2 separate regions of the Homo sapiens genome follow, and region 2 is linked to region 1. Evidence: fine-mapped expression QTL. Tissue or cell type: whole blood. Region 1 holds a variant in brackets; the other region holds the start of a gene. All regions are shown on one strand. Distances are from middle to middle.

What was found. PIP is the estimated chance that this variant, and not a neighbour inherited with it, causes the effect.
Region 2: it holds the start of RTKN2, and the variant in region 1 is fine-mapped to the expression of RTKN2 in whole blood (INTERVAL, PIP 0.97).

Annotation. Positions count from the first base shown.
Region 1 is chr10:62,176,893-62,185,445 of GRCh38, reverse strand. It overlaps a transcript of RTKN2 not described here. Among named protein-coding and RNA genes, the nearest start is that of LINC02621, 78 kb to the left of the region's middle. RefSeq lists an enhancer at 4,792-4,961. The variant C/T (reference allele first, on the strand shown) is at 1,922.
Region 2 is chr10:62,266,832-62,270,831 of GRCh38, reverse strand. RTKN2 (rhotekin 2) reads left to right here and starts at 1,988. Exons shown (of 12, transcript NM_145307.4): 1 at 1,988-2,281. The coding sequence starts at 2,222. All of the region lies in intron 1 of LINC02621 (long intergenic non-protein coding RNA 2621), which reads right to left. RefSeq lists a silencer at 1,907-2,236.

The sequences.
Region 1 (8,553 bases):
CGGGGTTTCACCAACTTGGCCAGGCTGGTCTCGAACTCCTGACCTCATGATCTGCCCACTTCGGCCACCCAAAGCACTGGGATTACAGGCCTGAGCCACCGTGCCCAGCCTGCCAAAAGCAATCTTTGAATCAAAGCTGGAAGAACTGATGCAATCAATATTCCTTAGTTTGGGACTGACTTGGTGCCTGAGTACCAGTCAACTTGGAGGATCTGCCATACAAATTATGAGGGTTTTTTTTTTTTTAACTGTGGAGGTCCTATTTTTGATAGATTATAGAAATAAGGAGTGACAAGTCAAGCTGTCATGAGAGGAGAGTCATCTAAAGTTAGTACTGAAAACAGAAATTTGGCTGGCAAATTAGTTAGAAAAGGGAGGCAGAACAATGGGAAAATTTTTTGCAAGATTTCCTGGGAGTTGGGGATGGTGATGATGGCAGGGGCCCTGGAGTGACCGCTTACCAATTAGTGGTTTACCTGTTAACTTTGGCAGATGTTTTACCAGTGAATGGTAAGATTTCTAATTGAGCTTCAGGCAAGACTGTCTAGTGAAAACTATACTTCTATTTACTCTTCAGTAACTAACAAGGCCTGTTTTTTTCTTTACTTAGTTCTTATTTGAGATCTTGGTTAAGAAATTATAAAATATAAATAGAATATTAGCGACTTGGGTTATTTGGTTGTTGAGAAAGGGTTCTCTAGAGAAAATATAATTTCATAACTGCAGTACTTATTCAATTAGACTAGGAAGGCTCCTCAGAGGTAATCTACTTCAACCTCTTTCTGTAGGCGGAAGCCATGCTCCCAACCAATCATATTCATGAATATCCAGCCTCTGTTTGACATTATTCTTTAAGGTTGTTTGCTTTTAGAATTTTCAGCCCATTTCTTGTAAGTTCCAGTTCTAAGAAAGGCTTTTTTACATATTAAGACAACTCATTTTTCCTGAAACTTGCAATCTTTTCCACTGACTGCCTTTTGTGATTCTGATTGGTGGTGACTTTCTGGTTTTCTCTTTACCTCTGTGGGTGACTAAAGGTGATTTTTTTTGTTTTTCAGAATAATAGTAATCAACTACATAATCTCCAGAAACTGCCAGCAACTTCCAAATTCCTCTTCACATAGCTTCTCAAATACTTCATTAGAACCAGTGTGAAAAATTTAAAATACAATGTGACATTTCTCTAGTAGAATGTAAGCTTCATGAGGGAAAAGACAACGCGTCTCCTTCCTGTATTCCTAGCACCCAGTACGGCACCTGACACATAATAGTGACCTTAGAAGAATATTTAAGAGTCATTGAGTAAACATTTTGTAGAGCTGTCCATGTTTATTTTCCATTCAGTGTTTACCAGGTGTCTGCTATTTGGACAGTCACTTCATTGTTCATTAGTACATGACTTTGGTAAATATATCTCCTGTGAAGAGAAATATTATAACTACTATGGCATTCAACACTGGTATTTCAGTTACTCAACTAATCCACCCACTGATGGAGTGAACCTTGAATTAAATGCTTTGAAGAATAAAGTGAATCTTGATAAAAATCAAAGGCTGAAGAAATCTTGTTTGACAGAAGGCATGAACAAAAATGCTAAAATTAATACTGTTTGTGGAGAAACACTCATTCCACCGCAGACTAAATGGAGTTCATGAGTATCAAAATGCCTATGTGATCAAAAGGCAGAAACAGCTTCTTTTTACTAGGTCTGTTAATATTCCAGGACTCATAATATTGTGCCTACATGAGCACCTGTGTTTGTGGTAACTCAAAGTATTTGAACACCTTATCTCATCCAACCTCAAATTTCCTGTGAGGTATTTAAGCACCGAGAGCTCTTGGTACTGTTTTCAAGATGAAGCAGATGAATTAGAGAGGCTGTTCACACACCAAATTTCACAGAAGCCTATGGAGGAAATGA[C/T]GGGGAGACTTACCAGTTAACACCCAGTTGCAGAAATCAATGTCAGAGCTTGAAAGGACCTTATAAACCCCTGATCCAATGTGGACTTTCCTAGTAAGACTTCTGTTTGCAGTGACTTGGTTCATTTCACCAACCACAAGAATTTTAAGTAATTTTTAATCATAAAAGTAACATAGAACATAGTAATACATATATACGTACATACATGATACAGAAAGGTATCAAAAAACAAAAACATATATTACTTCCTCCTCTAACATTCCAGTGCCAGTTTCCAAAGATTCCTATTACCCAGAGGTAACCACTGTTAATAATTTTTAATGTATATTTCCAAAAATTTTTTATGCATTTAGAAATGTGTGCATGTGGGTGATGGGTGCACCAAAATCTCAGAAATCACCACTAAAGAACTTACTCATGTAACCAAACACCATGTGGTCCCCCAAAAACCTATTGAAATAAATAAATAATAACATAATAAAGACTTAATAAAAAGTAAAATAAAAATGTGTACATGTATACATACACGCAATGACAGTTGGTCCTCAAATAACATCATTCCATTCAGTGTCATTTCATTATACTGTTGATTGGAAAAAAATTGATTTCTGCCCGGGGCCCCTGTCTGTGTGGAGTTCCCATGTTCTCCCCATGTCTGTGTGGGTTTTCTCTGGGTATTCTGGTTTCCTCCCACATCCCAAAGATGTGCATGTCAGGTGAATTGGTGTGTCTACATTGTCCCAGCCTGTGTGGGTGTGTGTGTGAGGTGCCCCCTGCTAGGGTATGGCGTCCTGGCCAGGGTGGCTTCCGCTTTGCACCCTGAGCTGCTGGGGTGGACTCTGGCCACCCTCAACCCTCATCTGGAATAATTGGGTAATAATTATCTTGTTTTTATTAATCTTTCTTAAAAGTATATATAGTTCGCATTTATTTCAGTGTTTAATATTAGAAGTGTTTTACTCTTTAGAAGTTTGGTGATGTTTTTGTGACCAGAAATATGCCATAGGAACTTAGCTCTTGTTTATATCAATTAGCCTGCAGTAATTTGGTTCCATTGTGTGTTTCCTTAAAGCTGAAGTTTCCAAGTACCTACTGATGACGTTAAGTGAGGACTTAACTTGTGTGTTGCAGCTCCTATTAAATTGCTGCACTTGGAAGCATAGTAGTCATTTCAAACTTTAAAAAGATCTTCTGCTATTCTGTTCCAATTCTGACCTTCTCACAGTTTTATTCATCTAGTAAACACCAACTCGATCCTTCCAGTTGCTCAGGTCAAAACCTTTAAGTCATCTTTGGTTCCTCTCTATCCAAAACACCATCTATCTAATTCACCAGCAAATCTTATTGAGTATATGTTAAAAATATCTCCAGAATCCAACCACTTATCACCATCTCCATTGCTTCCACCCTAACTCAAGCCACTAGCATCTGTTGCCTGAATTATTACAATAGCCTTCTAACTGGTCTCCCTACTACTACATAGCTTTCTACTGTCTATACTCAGGATAGCAGACAGAAGGATCCTGTGAAAACACAAGTCAGGTCGTATACCTTCCATGCGCAAAAAACATTCAAATGCTCCCCAGTTAATTCAGAGTAAAAGCTGAAGTAAAAGACTGTCCACAGTCTGCTGACCCCATTACCTATATGACTTAATCTCCTGCTACTCTAGAGAAACTTCACTCTCTTTGTTCCACATATACTGGCTTTTGCGCTGTCCTGAACATGCCTGGCATGCTCTTGCCTCAGGGCCTTGCACTTGCTGTTTCCTCTTCCTGGAATGCTCTTACACCAACTATCATCACTTCATTCAAGTCTTTTTTTTTTTTTTTTTTTTTTTTTTTGAGACGAAGTCTCACTCTTTCGCCCAGGCCAGACTGCTGTGGCGGTATCCCCACTCACTGCAAGCTCCGCCTCCCAGGTTCTCGCCATTCTTTTGCCTCAGCCTCCCAAGTAGCTGGGATTACAGGCGCCCACCACCGTGCCCGGCTGATTTTTTGTATTTTTAGTAGAGACGGGGTTTCACCGTGTTAGCCAGGATGGTCTCGATCTCCTGACCTCGTGATCCGCCCTCCTCAGCCTCCCAAAGTGCTGGGATTACAGGCGTGAGCCACCACGCCCGGCCTCAAGTCTTAATTTAAATGTAACTTTCTCAATCAGTCCTTCTCTAGCCCCTCTTAAAATTGCAACTCCATCCCCAAACTCACTCTGTATTCCCTTTCCTGCTTTTGTTTTCTCCTTAAAATTCATTTTTACTCATTTGTCTTTTTAGTTGTCTGTCTCTCTAAGGTAGATTATGTTTCTAAAGATGACTACAACATTAACTTTCATCCCACATGTTGTTTTCTAATGTGACATTGTCATTCTCCATCAAGAAATGGAGCCTATTTTGCCCTCACTTGAATCTGGGCTTCTGCCTTCCATCCTTGGGGTGCCTCCTCTTGGAAGTTCACAGCCATATTAGAAGAACAAATGCCCTGAGACCACCATGCTGTAAGGGGGCCCAAACTAGCCAGGTGAAGAAGAGGCCATGTACCAAAGCTCTGGACATGTGACTAAAGCCTTCTGGAACCGTCTGTGCCAACATCACCCATCAGCTGAAGGGAGTCAAGGAAGAGATCCAGTCAATACTAGATGGAACAGAAGAACTGCCAAGCTGAGCCCTGAATTCCTGACTCATAGAATTGTGATGAAATAAAGGTTGTTGTTTGAGGACACTATGTTTTGGAATAGTTCGTTAAGCAGCAATAGATTCTTGAAATATTCCTATACTATAATGCAAGCTCCACGAGGATAAAGATTTTTTATCGTTTTTGTTTTATTTTTTTGCCTGCTGCATCCCTGGTGCCTGCTGTAGTGCTCAGAACGAGGTAGGTGCTTGGTAAACATCTGTTGAATGAATGAATATATGAATGAAAGAGAGAGAGAACATAATGAAGAGAACATTACTAGTGGATCCATGTTTCTTTCCAGTGCCATGAAAAAATAGGATATGGAACCTAACTATGGCAGTAATAAGAGAAATTAGTGGCCATGGGCATGCTGCCTTGCAGGGCCAGCTTCCCAGGCTGGCCAGGATGCAGAGAACATTTGGCAATATATCTCAGGAAAACCAGTTTCACAGACATTGTCTTCAAACCTTTTCTTTTTGAGACATTAAATCAACCTTTTAATAAGCCAAATCATTGTCCTTTTAAGTATAAAGTAACACAGGCGCATGGTAAAATTTTATACAACACAGAAAGTTGTAGAAGGAAAAGAGTTTCATTTTACCCTGATGTTAACAGTTCCTTTGGTAGTAGTTAGAAAATGTCTAGGCATGATTGAGGCCTTAAGATTCATTCTATTTTGTTCTCTCTTTTTTCACTCTACATAGTATCTTAAAGAGAGTTTCCTAAAGGCATCTACAACAACAATTAGCTTTTACTTATTGAATGCTTACTATAGCTACTCTTGTTAGTCTGTGTAGTGTTACTATACACTACACAGGCCAGGCATGGTGGCTCACGCCTGTAATCCCAGCACTTTGGGGAGGCTGAGACAGGTGGATCACCTGAGGTCACAGGTTCAAGACCAACCTAGCCAACATGGAAAACCCCGTCTCTACTAAAAATACAAAAATTAGCCAGGTGTGCTGGCATATGCCTGTAATCCCAGCTACTCAGGAGGCTGAGGCAAAAGAATCTCTTGAATCCAGGAGGGGGAGGTTGCAGTGAGCAGAGATGGCACCACTGTATTCCAGCCTGGGCGACACAGTGAGACTCTGTCTCAAAAAATAAAACAAAACAAAAATAAAAAAATAAATACCTGAGGCTGGGTAATTTCTAAATAAAAGGGCTTTATTTGGTTTACAATTCTGCAGACTGTACAAGAAGCATGGTGCCAGCATCTGCATCTGGTGAGGGCCTCGGACTGCTTCCACTCATGGCAGAAGTTGAAGGGGAGACAGTGTGAGCAGAGATCACATAGCAAGAGCAGAAGCAAGGGACTGGGGGAGGTGCAAGGTGGGAAGGGCTGGGCACAGTGGCTCAAGCCTGTAATCCCAGCACTTTGGGAGGCTGAGGCGGGTGGATCACAAGATAAGGAGATTGAGACCATCATGGCCAACATGGTGAAACCCCGTCTCTACTAAAAATACAAAAATTAGTAGGGCGTGGTGGCATGCACCTGTAATCCCAGCTACTCGGGAGGCTGAGGCAGGAGAACTGCTTGAACCCGGGAGGTGGAGGTAGCAGTGAGTGGAGATAGTGCCACTGCACTCCAGCCTGGGCGACACAGCAAGACTCCATCTCAAAAAAAAAACAAAAAACAAAAAAACAAACAAACAAACAAAAAAAAAACCATCTCTGGCAGGAACTAATAAAGCCAGAACTCACTCACACACCCCTGGGGTGAGGACATTAATCTATTCATGAGGGACCCACCCCCATGACCCAAACACCTCCCATTAAGCCCGCCTCCAACATTGGGGATCAAATTTCAACATAAGATTTGGAGGAACAAATATCCAAAATATAGCAGCCACCATACAATAGACGATTTCATCTTCACAACAACCCAGTGAAGTCGATATCATCATTATTCCCATTTTATAGATGAGGAAACTGATACTTGAGGGGCAACGTAACTTGCCCAAAGTCAAACACTTTGAAAATGACAGATTCAAATTCTGACTCCACAGCTATGCTCTTAACTTTCTTTCTCTACTGCCTCTGTTACAGAAAGTGAACTCCTTATCTCTAAGTGCTGCATTGTTGTATTCCATAGCAATGACTGGACTAGCAACTCTGAAACAATCTTTTGTGCAATCTAGACTTGATAAATGAGTATATATATTGAGAATAGTGGAAGCCAGGTTTCTTACTGTTGGTAATGGAACTTGCATGTATGGAAAGGGGAAGACTAGAACATACACTGTAGTGTTGGGTTACAGTTGGAAGTATCACTATGGGCTAATTTTTTTTTTTACATATCTATCCTAGCTCTGTCCATCGAGAAGGCCTAGAAATAATGACATACCAGTAGCCATAAACATACTGAGCCCCCAGATCTTGGTTCTAAATACTATTCTCCAGTAAAAGGAACCAGAGATCCTTGACTGATTCTGGTTCTGGGATAGGGACAGCACATGATGAGCCTGGAATATCTTGTTGCTCCAAAAAATACCCTCAATAACCAAAGCTGGAAACACTTGAGCAACAAAATAAAGTATTATTGGATGATAACACAGAATGTAAAAAACTATTTTTTATCCATACTGATATAAATTGTTGAATAGGTAAATAATAGGAAAGAAGAATTCAAAATATGCAGATTCTCTACTATCAAGGAGGTGAAGCATAACTTCACTTCTTAAGCCAGTGCTTCACTTGGTGACTTCCTTTCAAAGAGTACAGTATGAAAAGGTAGGAAAAAAACCCAGTAGCTTCAGAATAGAAGAAGCTGACAAACACCATGTCAGGCTGGTGGGAGCTTTCAGTTGGCTCCTCTGTTCCTTTGACATGCCTCCATCAATGTGTTTTTATTTGAGCACTTCTTTTCTTTTTGGTAAAACAAAATACTCCAGGCTCCTCCTGTATATTTCCTCCCCCAATCCTAGAACCAGCCATTTCTCCAAAGAGCCCTAGTTTATTTTATTTCAAGAATGGTATTAGAAACCAAGATCTTGTAGTTTAGTGTGCTCATTTTTACTGGGATTTCATTGCTTCTAGCCTCTGCAGACAGAAGAAAATATATGTGTATATATGAATGTATATATTCATATCTATAAATACTTCTATCTATATTAAGCTAAACATGAGTTTAAACTGATGTCTTCAACTCTAAACCGTGACCACAAAGATCAGTCTAGCCCCCTCCCCTTGATCATCTGTAACCTCTCACTGGAACAGTGAAACACCTGGCTCCTACCATCCATTATCCATTTATGTAAAATTTCACTATATATGTATAGTGGTAGCCAACTTTTTTATTTTAGCCATTCTAATTGGTAGATAGTAGTATCTTCTAAAGGTTTCAGTTTCCATTTTCCTTGTGATTAAATATGTAGAACATCTTTTCATGTGCATTCTTCCCATCGGTATATCTTCTTTGGTTATATATCTGTTCAAATCTTTTGCTCATTTAAAATTAGATTTTTTCTTCTCATTATGTTTCAGAAGTTACTTGTGTACTTTGGATTCATGTCCTTTATCAGATATGTGGTTTGCAAGTATTTCCTCCCAGACTTTCGCTTATTTGTTCACTCTCTGACCAGTGCTTTTAATTCTGATGAGATCAGATTTATCAGAATCTTGGTTTTTATTTTATTATTTTACGAACCATGTTTTTGTTGTCATGTCTAAGAAGTGTTTGCCTAACCCAGTGTCACTGATATTTCTCATACATTTTTTACTTCCAAAAATTGTACAGTTTTGGTCTGCGATCTGTTTTATAGTTTATTTTGTATATGGTGTGATATATCGATTAATTTTTTTGCATATGAATATCCAATTACTCTAGCACCCTTTATTTAAAAGACTACTTTCTCTTCACTGAATTGCCTTTACAGTTGTAGAGTTTGTAGAGTTAATTGTTCATGTATTTGTGAGCAATTTTTTTATTCAGACACTCCCTATTTTGTTCCATTGATT
Region 2 (4,000 bases), 88 kb before region 1:
GGTTAAGAGATGCCCAAATGTTCTCTCTCAGATATTTGAGATGGTAAAACGTAGTACTTCTCACTTTCTGGGAACTGTAAAATAAATAGATTGATAGAGAAATCCTCAAGCTAATGAAGCCACTGCATATGAACTCTTTAAATTTTGTAGTTTCCATGGATGAGTATATTTTATGTGCATTACATACACCAGAGAAAACTGGCTGATGAAATTAGCAGTAACAAGTAAGGACTTGAGGATAAATAAGGAAACATAAGTCCTACTCCAAGGTATTTTAATCATCATATAATAATTAAGTACTTAAGCAATTCCTGGGGACCTCTCCCGGTGTATAATAAAAACAGGACCACATCATAACTTCTTCTCCCAAGAGAAAGGTCTCTTGTAACAACTGTATTCTACAGATAATTACTAAATATGATCTTGCCTAATCTCTTTCTTCTAGTATCATAAATAAATGTATCTCCAGTTAAATATCTGGTTTTAACTCATCAAATACTCCTCTATCAGTGTCCAATTCTAAACTGGTTGACTCACCTCTGTTTTAATGAAGTGCTGGCTTCTACATGTATTTTGATCTGCAACTGAGAGCTGTATGTGTTGTAAGTACTATGTGTCTGATGATGGGCTCGCGGTGTGTTTTTCTTTTGAGTCAGGTACTACAGCTAGGCTCATGCAGCCTCATACTGAGTAGGAGATAATTATACCACAAAGTGGTAGCATAAGACAGAGATGTGCATTGGAGGAAAGGGCACATAATGATTCTGAAATTCAGACCTGTGTTTGTAGAAAACGAGGTGAGCTCCGTGTTGATAATTTTGAACACATATTTTATTGTTGTAAGGATATGGGTCATTCATAATGCAAGGGGACCATCATTCCCAACTGGGAAGCTTCTAGTATCACCTAGTCCAAAAGGTCTTAAAGAGGCATTTTACCTATTTGAGGAAGGGTATCCATTATATTTTTAAAGTACATTCTCAAACCAACTGCTTTTAAAAGGGTCTTGCAGTTAAAATGACCACATAATATCCACTACGGGATAAGTGCAAGATTGGTGCAACATTGGGACAACAGACCCAGACAGGGTCTGTCCCAGGCAAATGAAAAAACATGGGCACCTATTTATGGAGGAAAAATGCCCAAGGGTTTCTAGGCGATGAGGGCTGGAGGGTTGATTTGGTAGACTCTTCAAGAAGAGGCTTCCTCTTGCCTTTTCAAGGGGGAAATAAAGATAAACTAGGGACAATGAATTTTAAGGACTTTTCAAGGGTGTGATATCTTTGCTGCTTTCATTTTGATTTTTAAAAATCCCATGTTTCCCTTTATAATTAACAAAATCCATGAATTAAAATGGGTCTTTGTGCTAATCTTTAGGGCAGCAAGAAATGAGGCTCTTGAGAAATAGTACCCCATTTTGCTATCACCTTAGATGTTGGAGAGGGAAAGAGAGGGCGAGAGAGCTGAAAGAAATCCTTCGCAAGAAAACAAAGTAAGTGGACAGAGTAGTTGGCGGGGAACATCTGGGATTATAAACACTGGGGGCAAAGACAAGACCTTGTGAAATGCCTGACATAGTATCTCACGAACCTGATGAATAAAACCATGATATCTGGGTGACCCTGGTGACAACGCTGGGAAAGGTGAGAGGAAACAGAGAGCGCTGTGTTTGAGAGTAATGTTATTGGTTCTTTAGGAACGAGACCGTGGGCTCTTAGTGACGCTGTGGGTTCCTGAGTTGTCTGGGAGTACAGGGACTGCAGCCTCGAGTCTGTCCAGCTACGATCACTTTGGAAGGCCTTCGGTGGGATGCGGGCAGAAAGCTCCCAGTGCAAAGGGCGTGCCACGAAAACCACCAGCCAGAAACCTGAGCTGGGACAGGTGCGCTCCGCCGCCGAAGCTTTCCCCGCGGCCCCTCCCACTCCCGTCCCAGGCCCGCCCACATCCCTGTCCGGGACTTAAGTCCGGCACCGCCGCCCTCTCCCCCGCCCCGCCGCGCTAGAGCCTGGGGTCTCGGCAACTTCCGGCGGCGGGAGCTGCAGAGCGCAAGGCGCGCCCACTGCGCGTGCGCTTCGGCCCGGCTCCTCCTGCGCCCCCGGCCCCTGCGACTGGGACTTGGTACGGCCGGGCGGTTGGCGTCCTCTGCGGCTCCTGCCAGGGGCGGGCTTTTCAAATCTTCCCTTTGAAGGAGTGGCGACGGCCCGGACAGTTCGCGTTGGAGATGGAGGGGCCGAGCCTGAGGGGTCCTGCGCTCCGCCTGGCGGGGCTTCCCACCCAGCAGGTGAGTTGCGGGAGGGACCCTGCCGCGGAAGGTGAGGGAGCCGGGGTTCTGTTCCTCGCGCATTTGCTTTGTGGAGGAGTCGGGAAAGCCTCTCCCCCGCTCCTCTATTTCAGCGGTGGCCAGAAACAAAGGGAGGGATTAGGAGACTGCGCTCTTGGGGCTCTAAAGGGCCTGGACATCGGAACCCCCGAGTTTCTCAGGCAGCTGAGGTCCGGATTGGGAAGGCGGTGCCGGGGTCCAGGCGCGCGTTTGCGGGCGCACCTGTCCGCTGCCCTCCCCAGGCTTTGGACGCCTGTCTTTTTGCAGGTGTAGGTGATGCCGGGGAAATGGGAGCCCCTCGATTCCCAAGAAACCCAGCGAGGCCAGTGGACAGCTGGCTTATTACGGATTTAATGGGAAGCACAGTAATGGAGCGATGTCTACACACAACACAGAACTGGTTGGGGGGAGGGGGTTCGGAGCGGAGTAGAGGCAAACAGCAACCTCTGCACTTTAGAAAAAGTTGAAGGTTTGATACTGGGTTCTTTCTCAAATCATTTGAAAGGAAAGAGGGAGTACACGTGACATTGGATAGAAGTTTGATGTTTGCTTTTGAGCCATGTAAAATGCGTTAGAAACCTTTTTATTTTACTTTTTACTAAACCAACATTATTTCTTGGCAGCATCAGTTATTAAAATGTTACCACTTTTCACTCTTAACCATAACTTTAGGGTCTTAAAAGAAAACTCTGATGTCTTTAAGCTGGACCTTCACTTCTATTTTAATCTCTACCTTCTTTTACCTACTTCAGAAATAGGTTAAGCCATATGAAATTGCCAGTTTTGTAGGTCAAAATTGGTAGAATATTTGCAATTTCATTCATATGGAGGCACCTGATATCTTTGTTTAAAAATCTGGGATTTCCTTAGCAGACACAAAATTATTAGTTTTCAATAATACTGTGAAAAATAAAGCAAGACATTAAGATTCATTATGCAAAAGAAGTCCAGTGTCTTTATCAGTAATACTTATGCTGTTTTATGCCAGCATTTTCAAAAATTTCAAAGATTTTGATGTACTTTTTTTCAGTCCTGTCCTGTTATGTACTTTGGCTGTCCTGATTGCTAACAAAATCTTGATTTATAGTGAATTGCCATTCTATTGATGTTCTTGCACCTATCATATAGGTGTAGGTGTAGCTGTCCAGGTGTATTTATTGAGCTGCAGGCTGCAAGAATAGGAATGGTACAGAAGCGACAAGAGGATAAAATCATGAAGTTTAGTTGCATGGAATGAAAATAAATGTTTAAATATACATAAAGCCTGGGTTATTTACATGTGGGAAGATACAATACTTAATTTCTTAGGCAGGACAAAATCAAAATGATTGAAATGTGGAATTACTTCCTCAGTTTGGATTTGAAGAAAAAACACAAAATAGTAGTAGGTTGCAACCTAACAGGAATATTGAGAGTCAGATAATTTTATACTTGACTAACACTGAATTTTTATTTGGTATTTCCTTTGATACATGAATGAAGCTGCCACGTAATCGAGATAAGGCCAAAGATTTTGAGGTGGTCACACACTGGTCAAACACCTCTGCTGAAACCCTGGAGTCCTCTGCGACTCCTCACAGCATAGAGTATTGGCTTTGGAGTCAGATTCAGGTCAAACCAAACTCTTCTTGTTGTGCAACCTTGAATAAGTTATCTCTGTTTTCTAAGTTTCAGTTTCCA